Linked DNA regions of Homo sapiens. The protein of the gene in region 1 interacts with the protein of each later gene in a biochemical or structural test. Each region holds a gene or a part of one and is shown in the gene's direction. Other genes may lie near its edges.

Region 1 (3,823 bases):
CACCTACTTTCCATGAGTAAGGGCATACTGTTAACTTTGCTTTAAGCCTTGTGTCCTTTGATGCTGGTAGACATAATCAAGATGCAGGTCACCACAGGGTCAGAGGCACATTTAATAGGAAAATAATGAATTGAAAGATAATTGTGTTTTTTAAGGATATACTTGTTTTTTCAAAATCAACTTTACTTAATGCTACCTATTGCTGTTTTAATAATCACTTAGGAAATATACCCTGTTGTTACAGGAACACACTCTATCTCTCCTCCCTAGTTCTTGATACTGTTTACATTTAATTATCTAGTGTAAGTGGTTATCTTTTCTTAAACTCTTTTTTATCCTTTGCCTTGATTGGGCATCTAATGGTTTGCTTGAAGAATTTCATGTGTCTTCAATCTGCCAGGGCACATAAATTTAAAAGAATTGCTGTTCAGACTTCAGATTCATGACAGCTGTTTCTAATTGAAAGCTATTTGCAGGTAGCTTGCTTAGTGAAATAACTTGAGAAGTAATAAGGACATTATGTTTCATCATGACATTATCAAAGTTTTACTCAGAACTCACAATTGTGAAATAGTGTTGCCCTTTTCTATTCTAGGATAGAATGGAAACCCAACAGATGAGGAAGTATCACAGGTAATATATAAAGTTATGCTTTCAGAGAATGCTTGGGAAGGAGGAGGCCTTCAAGGGGCAGTTTGCACCATCAGTTTTCACTCAGCACTGATTTTAAACCATGGCAAGGAGATCAGATAGACTATTTATCCTTGTTTGAAAAACTTCCAAAGGAGTAGACTCTTGATCCCCTTTCAGCAATCCATTCTAATATTTAGCAATTCTTGTGGTATAGAAATGTTTCCAGATATCTAGCCAAAAGCCTTCACAATATGCTTGCTTATTTTTTCTTGTTCTATCCTCTGGGAAGATACTGAGCAGTGAATCATCAGGTTCTTTGTTAGGAGAGTTACTCTCATCAAAGGTCAGTGTGAAACATTCTAGTCTTTCCTCATTCATCAGAATTATGACCTAAGTTTCCAATCCTCCTCATGTTGGTGGCTCTAAACTTCTAAAGGAACTCTACCACTGAAAATAGCACCTGCTTAAAACTCTGGGAAATTCAGAGAATGTTGTTTCAGGCTTACTCTGCCACTGTTTTATGCCTTGAGTCTTGCTAGGATCATTAATTATAACACTTTGTAGTTAACAGTGACTTATTGGCCTACATGATCATGTTTTCATTACTTATGTAATGTGACATTATTTAACAATCTCTTATATAGAATTTACTATGTGCCCATCACCTACTTAAAAATTATTACCTTTATAATATCACCTTACTGAATTCTTCCAATAACTTAGTAGATACTACACATTAACCCCATTTTATAGATAAAAAGGCTGTGTGACAGGAACTTTAATAAACTTACCTAAGGGTGACTCTACTAGTAAGTAATGAGGCTGCAGTTCAAACCCAGGCACTCTGACTCCAGGGTCTATATACCTAACTTGGCTCACTGCCTTACAGTATTAAACATTCACCATTTATTTTGAATGAATGCATGCAAAATCTATTCTTTCCTCATTTCATATATATATATATACGTATATATATATATACATATATATATATACGTATATATATATATATATACATATATATATATATATGTATATATATATATATATATATATATACGTATATATATATATATAGTCTGGTATTATTAATCACTATATACATATATGTATCCCTTCCAGTTTTGCATGCTAAATACGTTTCTATTTTGTTCCAACGTCTCTAATTCTCAATATCACTTTGACTTTGGATTTTGTATTCTCAGGAATTGGCCATGCTACCACCATTAAATGGTTCATGCGTTTATGCCTTTTTCTGAACGTTTTCTGGCAAGATATAGTTACATAAAACACAGAAACTAAAGTACATGTCTTGGTTTCTTTCAGTATACTAGGCCTATTGAAATATTGGGTTAGTCCAACAAAGCTCATGCTGGAAAGTTATTCATGGGGCTAGAGGGAGTAAGAACATTTATCTCCACAGATTAGAAAAAAAAATGTAACTAGCTCTGTTTTCAGTATTTATTTTGCAACTTTTTCTGTCCCAGGTATTTTGAGAGTTGGGTTACAGCTGGATATTAAAAAAGCACTAAAGTCTTCATCTATTTGATATTAATTTATCAAGTATTTATCTAAAAATCTACAGTTTAAAAAGATTATTTGCTTGTTTCAAAATACATAATGTTTCCTTTTCACTGATCTTTGCCCAGTGGGCGTTTCCTTTCTCTGGAAACCTGTCTTTCTGTCTGCTCCCCCGGCAAACCAACTAATTTAATACATTTACAATTTACACAACTTTTTTTTTTTTTTCCAGTTTCCATGGAGATATCACATTAACTTAAATGGAAAACAGTGTTTGGTAACTCTTACTCTTTAAAGCCACAGTAAATATCGTAGTTTGAGATAAATTGTTTAATTTCTGTTTATCTGCCTGGTTCAAAGATTTCTTATTTCTTTGCCCCCTGTTTAGTTAGCTGATTTCTTTAAAAGTTTTTGGAAGGACAGTGTAAGTCACAAATGAGTGAGGTGAACTTCAATTTTTGTTTTTGTAATGATTCTACAAGTCACTAGATTTCTAAAAGAATCACATTAATTCCAGGTATCAAAGCAATCTAAAAGTTGGGCTATTAGAAGCGTCACTTGTTAAACTCTTGATTTGGGCATTAATTTTAGAGCGATTGTGAGTTATCTTAGCTGATTTAATTAGAGGATAATATGTCATCATTGGGAACAAGAGTTCATTTGAGTTGACTGATATACTTTTTTACATAAAATATCTCTCAACTGCATTGTATCTTAATAATAGCTTGTGAGTAGAAATATAGGCCACTGTCAAAATTGATTTAAAATGTACAGCATTATGTTCTTTAAGTATTATGGCATAAAGATTGTGCCATAAATTATGTAAGAAAGTGACTAGTGTTCTTTTAAAATTATGGATGAAATTTACGAACACTTATAAAACACAAAATTATTGAGTAGTTCTAACCTAAAATGACCTAACTTCAATCACTAGTTTTGTATAGAAATCTGAGTTTAGGGTAAACATTATAATAAATTAATTGCTTTAAAAATGATTTTAATCTTTTGATCTTATATTGAAACCCACAAAAATAACAGTATAAGAACAACCTTTACCCCCACTTAATTCACATCTTTCAAATTACTTCTAGAAAGGCCAGTAAGGTGATTTAGATTTATCTTGCCAGTATAAACAGTGATTTAATATTCTTTTAAACTTGGTGATTTTATTTCTTTACAGACTAAATTCTGCTATGTTAAATTCTTGAGCTGGTACATAATTTAACTTTAAATATTTTCATAGATTTCTCCAGTATTATTCAATTTTCAATGATATATATAGTACAGTTTGAAAGTACTATTGACTCCCTGGGATCATATATTTGTAATAAAGGGTTCCATAGTGGTGAGACTTGGGTAAATATTTTAAAATTCTAATAATCCTGGATGAAAATATCTAAGAATTTTTAATAACCGTGGATGAAAAATATGTTTTAAATGAATGTGCCAGTTAGTAGCCAAAAAAAAAAAAATCAAAATTTGGTTTCACACTTTCACATTATTCAGGTTATTGGGTATTTTAATAACCCATTCTCTCTTTCTTCTAGGCATTTTTTTCTTCATGCAATGAGTATTTATTGTATACCTACTATGGGTAAGTCATTGTACCAGGTTCTGGGGGTAGAACCCCAGGGAATTTGAATCCCAGCAGGGAAGCAGAAATTAAGGA
Region 2 (3,823 bases), on another chromosome or scaffold:
GTCATTTTGGCGTGGCCCGGCTGAGGCGCTGGAGGGTGCTACTGGTTGGCAGGTCAGCTCCGGGGACGATTTCCCCCTCTCCAGGAAACCTTGAGAGCCTCTGAAGTCTGCGTGAGGTGGCGACAGAGAAGGGGACATTCAAACCCCAGGTTCCTGCCTGCTGCCAGCAGAGAAAAAAAAATCACTCCTTATACCCCGGTTGAGCGTTCAGTGCGCCTTTTTTCCCTGCCTCCCAGGGGATTTCAGGCATCGTCCAGTGTCCATGGACCCTGCTTGGAGACACAAGTCCATTTTCCCCCAATTTCCACCATGGAACAGGGGGAAGCTTCGTGGATGCCAGGGATTTCGTGGTAGCATCTGGGTGGGGAGACCTGGAGCCATCACTGTGCACCCATTTTTTTCTTCTTTGGGTCGCATAGAGCCTGGGGCTCTGCCTGGGTTTCCCCAGACCTGGTACCAGTCTGGAGGCAAATCTATCTCTGCTCATCAAACGTCTTTCTGGGAGGTGACTTGGTTTCCCCTTCTGCCTTCGGGGTTGGCGTTGAACAGCGGTTCACAGATGTCTGAGGGCAGCGCACACCTCCACTTGCCAAGATGGGGAGACCTGTGGCTTCGCTGATTATTCCAGCGGCTGCATGGCCCCAATACAATAGTTAGTGGGATGGCCGGAGAGGGACGGGCAGGGACGGTGTGACTTGGTGGTGCGACGTGGCATTTCTACCCGAGCGCCCCGTGGCCCCGCGTTCACCTGCTTTCTGTGACGGTGCAGCCGCCGTGTGCGTGGGGGAAGAAGCGGGGCGTGGAGAGAGTTCGGGATGGGGGCGAGCGGGAGGGAAAACCCTAAAAATAAAAAGGGATATTTATAAACCCAGCGGGTTTGGGGGATAATTGACAAAGCTTAATGTTTTTCGGCTGAGAGCAATTCCTTCCCCCTGCTACCCATTAAGCTCCATTTGCAGAGTCGGTCGGAGCCACGGGAAGATCTTGAGATGAGCTTTAGGTTTGGCGGGCGCAGTGCTGACCGCTGTAGCCCCCTTCTGGGAGGGTCTCGTACTTTCTGGAAGGAGACAGGGGTCCCAGAAAGGGGCACTCCCCAGCTCTCCTCTGCATCCAGGGTAGGCTCCTGGCTCACCTTCCAATGGGTGGGTGTCCTCTTAGAATTTGCAAGGAGGATGAGAACCCTTCTCGGGCAAAGCCTGTGCAGGTTGCCCTTCCTCCGTCCTTCCCTGCGGCAAAAGATGCCCAGGGAGGGGAATTTGAAGAGAGACCCTCCCCCCCACCACCCGCCGCCGCCCCACCCTCCAACCGCTCACCAGGCAGAGTGGCTCAGCCTCCGGTGGGGACAGGAGGAGAGGAGATTAAGACATAACTGCTGTTCCTCGCAGGATTCGTGTGGCAAGCTGATACAAAACAAAACAAAAAAACCAAAAATTCACCATGGATTCACGGACCAAGGCACGTATCCGGGGCTTGAAGGTTTCAAGGGCTTTTTAAACTGTGAATTTTGTCATTTTCACACCTTACCTTGCTCTGGAATCGGAAAGCTGCCAGCTTGTGGCTTGCGGGGCAGAGGAGAGGGGATGCTGGAAGGGGATTGAGGCTCAAATGCATGTCATCTTATCACCAGGTGACATTCTGAATTGAGGAAGGGGGACACGGAGAGAGGAAGTGAAGTGTAGGGGATGTGATCGAGGGAAAGGGTGGCTGTTGTCTCACGCAGAGAGTGGCAGCCCCAAAATGTCTAGGAAACAGGTGACACCTGGGTCTCTCTAACCCTGAGGTTCAAGAGTGTGGAGTGTGTGGTTTCCCCCCCGCCCCCCCCCCTTTTCCTTTAAGGAAAGAAAAGACTCTCAACCAAAAAGGGAAGAAAAAAAAAAACCCGACGTACCATTTCTGTCTTGTCTCTGGCTGATATTTGAGAAGCGCTGGGGAGGGGGTTGTGTGTGGGGAATTTGAAAAATCAATTGGCTTACACTTCTCCAAAGGCGAAAATTAACGGGTAGGAGTGATTCACGGACAGGCCCTCCACTTTCACATCGCTTTATTTTTGTCTCTCTCTTTTTTTTTTTTCCTCCTCCTCCTCCTCCATGGAGCTGCCGGTCCCCCAACATCGTGGCCTGGCCAGACTGGACCTTGGGGCTGGTGCTATTCTGGGCTAGCCGTGGAATCCCCTCTTCTGTTCCCCGGAATCAAGGCACCCTCTGCGCCCCGCAGAGGCCGAGGGGATATTCCACATCTGAAAATAAACCCAGGTTTCTGTGCGGCTTCCTGTTTCCTTCTGATTCCCGCGGATCCCACCCTGGTTGGGGGTTCAGAGCCTGGATTTTTGGATCATGGGGACTCCCTCCTCCGGTCCCCATCGCCGTAACTGGGGCTGGATCACAAATGTCCCGTTTCATGGGGACAGATTTCATCTCGTACTCTTTATGTTATCTGGGTGGCCTTGCTCCTTTTAAGTTGTTTTTGATCTTTGCCATAAGCCCCTTATAGGAAGGGCCAGCTGTCTCCTGTTCCCCCTACCTGGAGAACTGAAAATTCCCCTTTTTCTCCCAGATCTCACCTGCCTGCCTGCCTTCCTTCCTTCCTGGATGACTTCCCCTCTTCCCTTTCAGTTCTCCGTGCAGGAGCTTCCTCACTTACAGAATGAGGTTACCCCTCTGGGTTCCAGGTCAGAGCCCTGACTTGAGCCACCCTCCTCACTTGAGCTGTGCAAACTAGGGCGGGTTGCCTGACCTCTCTGTGTTCTCTCATCTCTAAGATCAGTACAGTCGCAGTCTGCGTCGCGGCGAGCCTTGACATGAGATGCTGTGGGTAAACATGCCTCCCCTGGCTCTCAACGCGTCCGCAGTCAGTCGCATGCATCCTTCCTTCCGCTCCTGGACACCCAGAGGGGTATCCGGCGGGCGGAGAAGCCATGGCTCTGGAAGCCTGGGACCCTCGGATGAGGCAGGCTGTGGGGAGAGAGGCTGGGAGGATGGCCCATCGTCGCGCTGTCACGTGGGTAATTGAGAGTTTGCGGAAATTCAGGGGTTCTGGGGAAGCGAGGTTGGCGCGTCTGTGTGTGTATAATTTAATGCCGCTTATAATTAACCCCCGTGATCAGCAAATGAGGGGATGTCGGGGGGATAATAACAGCTGCTCCGACTATTTAGAGTTGGCGCCCCGTGCCAGGCCCTCTGCTAAGTAAGCAAGTCAGTAGCATCCTTGTCTCCTCCAACCTGCCGTCCCCTGTCAGCGGAGTTGCTGTGATCTGAGCCCTATTTTGCAGAGAGGGAAACTGAGGCACAGGGAGGGGCCTTCACTGGCCTGAGGTCACTTCACACAGCCCACAAGCTGTTGGCTGCCACAACCTGGATTCCTAACGCCTGGAAGGAGCTCTGCCCGATTGTCAGGGATGTTTGTTTGGACAGCAGTCCATCTGCTGCGGGGGCCACCTGAATCGCTACAGAGACACCCCCCGCACACACACACCCCAGGGCTCTTGACTGCCTTTTCTCAGAGGTTAAGAGCAAGGATGCTGGACTGAGGCTGCATGGGGTTCAAATCCCGGCTCTGCCGACTTGTTGGCTGTGTGACCTGGGGCAAGTTGCTCAACCTCTCTGTGCTTCCGTCTTCCTCATCTGTCTATGGAGAAGAGTAACAGTGCCCACCTTGAGGGATTGTTAGGAGGAAGAAATGAGTTAACGTGTGTAAGCACAGATTCAGAACGGCACCTAGAATGTAGCTGCCACCTCTATTCTGTTTTTGTTATTATTTTTGACAACATGGGAGCTACACTGATATGTTGAAGGACCTGCCCAAGAGGGGCTCTCCAGTGTCCACC

Evidence for each region.
Region 2: the proteins of GPC6 (region 1) and PTPRS form a complex in vitro, tested with the Homo sapiens proteins (one study listed by BioGRID).

Annotation. Positions count from the first base shown.
Region 1 is NC_000013.11:93,229,732-93,233,554, forward strand, and holds part of GPC6 (glypican-6 precursor), read left to right. Parts: intron 1-3,823. UniProt on the Homo sapiens protein: Cell surface proteoglycan that bears heparan sulfate. Putative cell surface coreceptor for growth factors, extracellular matrix proteins, proteases and anti-proteases. Enhances migration and invasion of cancer cells through WNT5A signaling.
Region 2 is NC_000019.10:5,334,265-5,338,087, reverse strand, and holds part of PTPRS (receptor-type tyrosine-protein phosphatase S isoform 1 precursor), read left to right. Parts: intron 1-21; exon of another isoform or gene 22-631; intron 632-748; exon of another isoform or gene 749-840; intron 841-1,132; exon of another isoform or gene 1,133-1,226; intron 1,227-1,313; exon of another isoform or gene 1,314-1,400; intron 1,401-1,524; exon of another isoform or gene 1,525-1,593; intron 1,594-3,823. UniProt on the Homo sapiens protein: Cell surface receptor that binds to glycosaminoglycans, including chondroitin sulfate proteoglycans and heparan sulfate proteoglycan.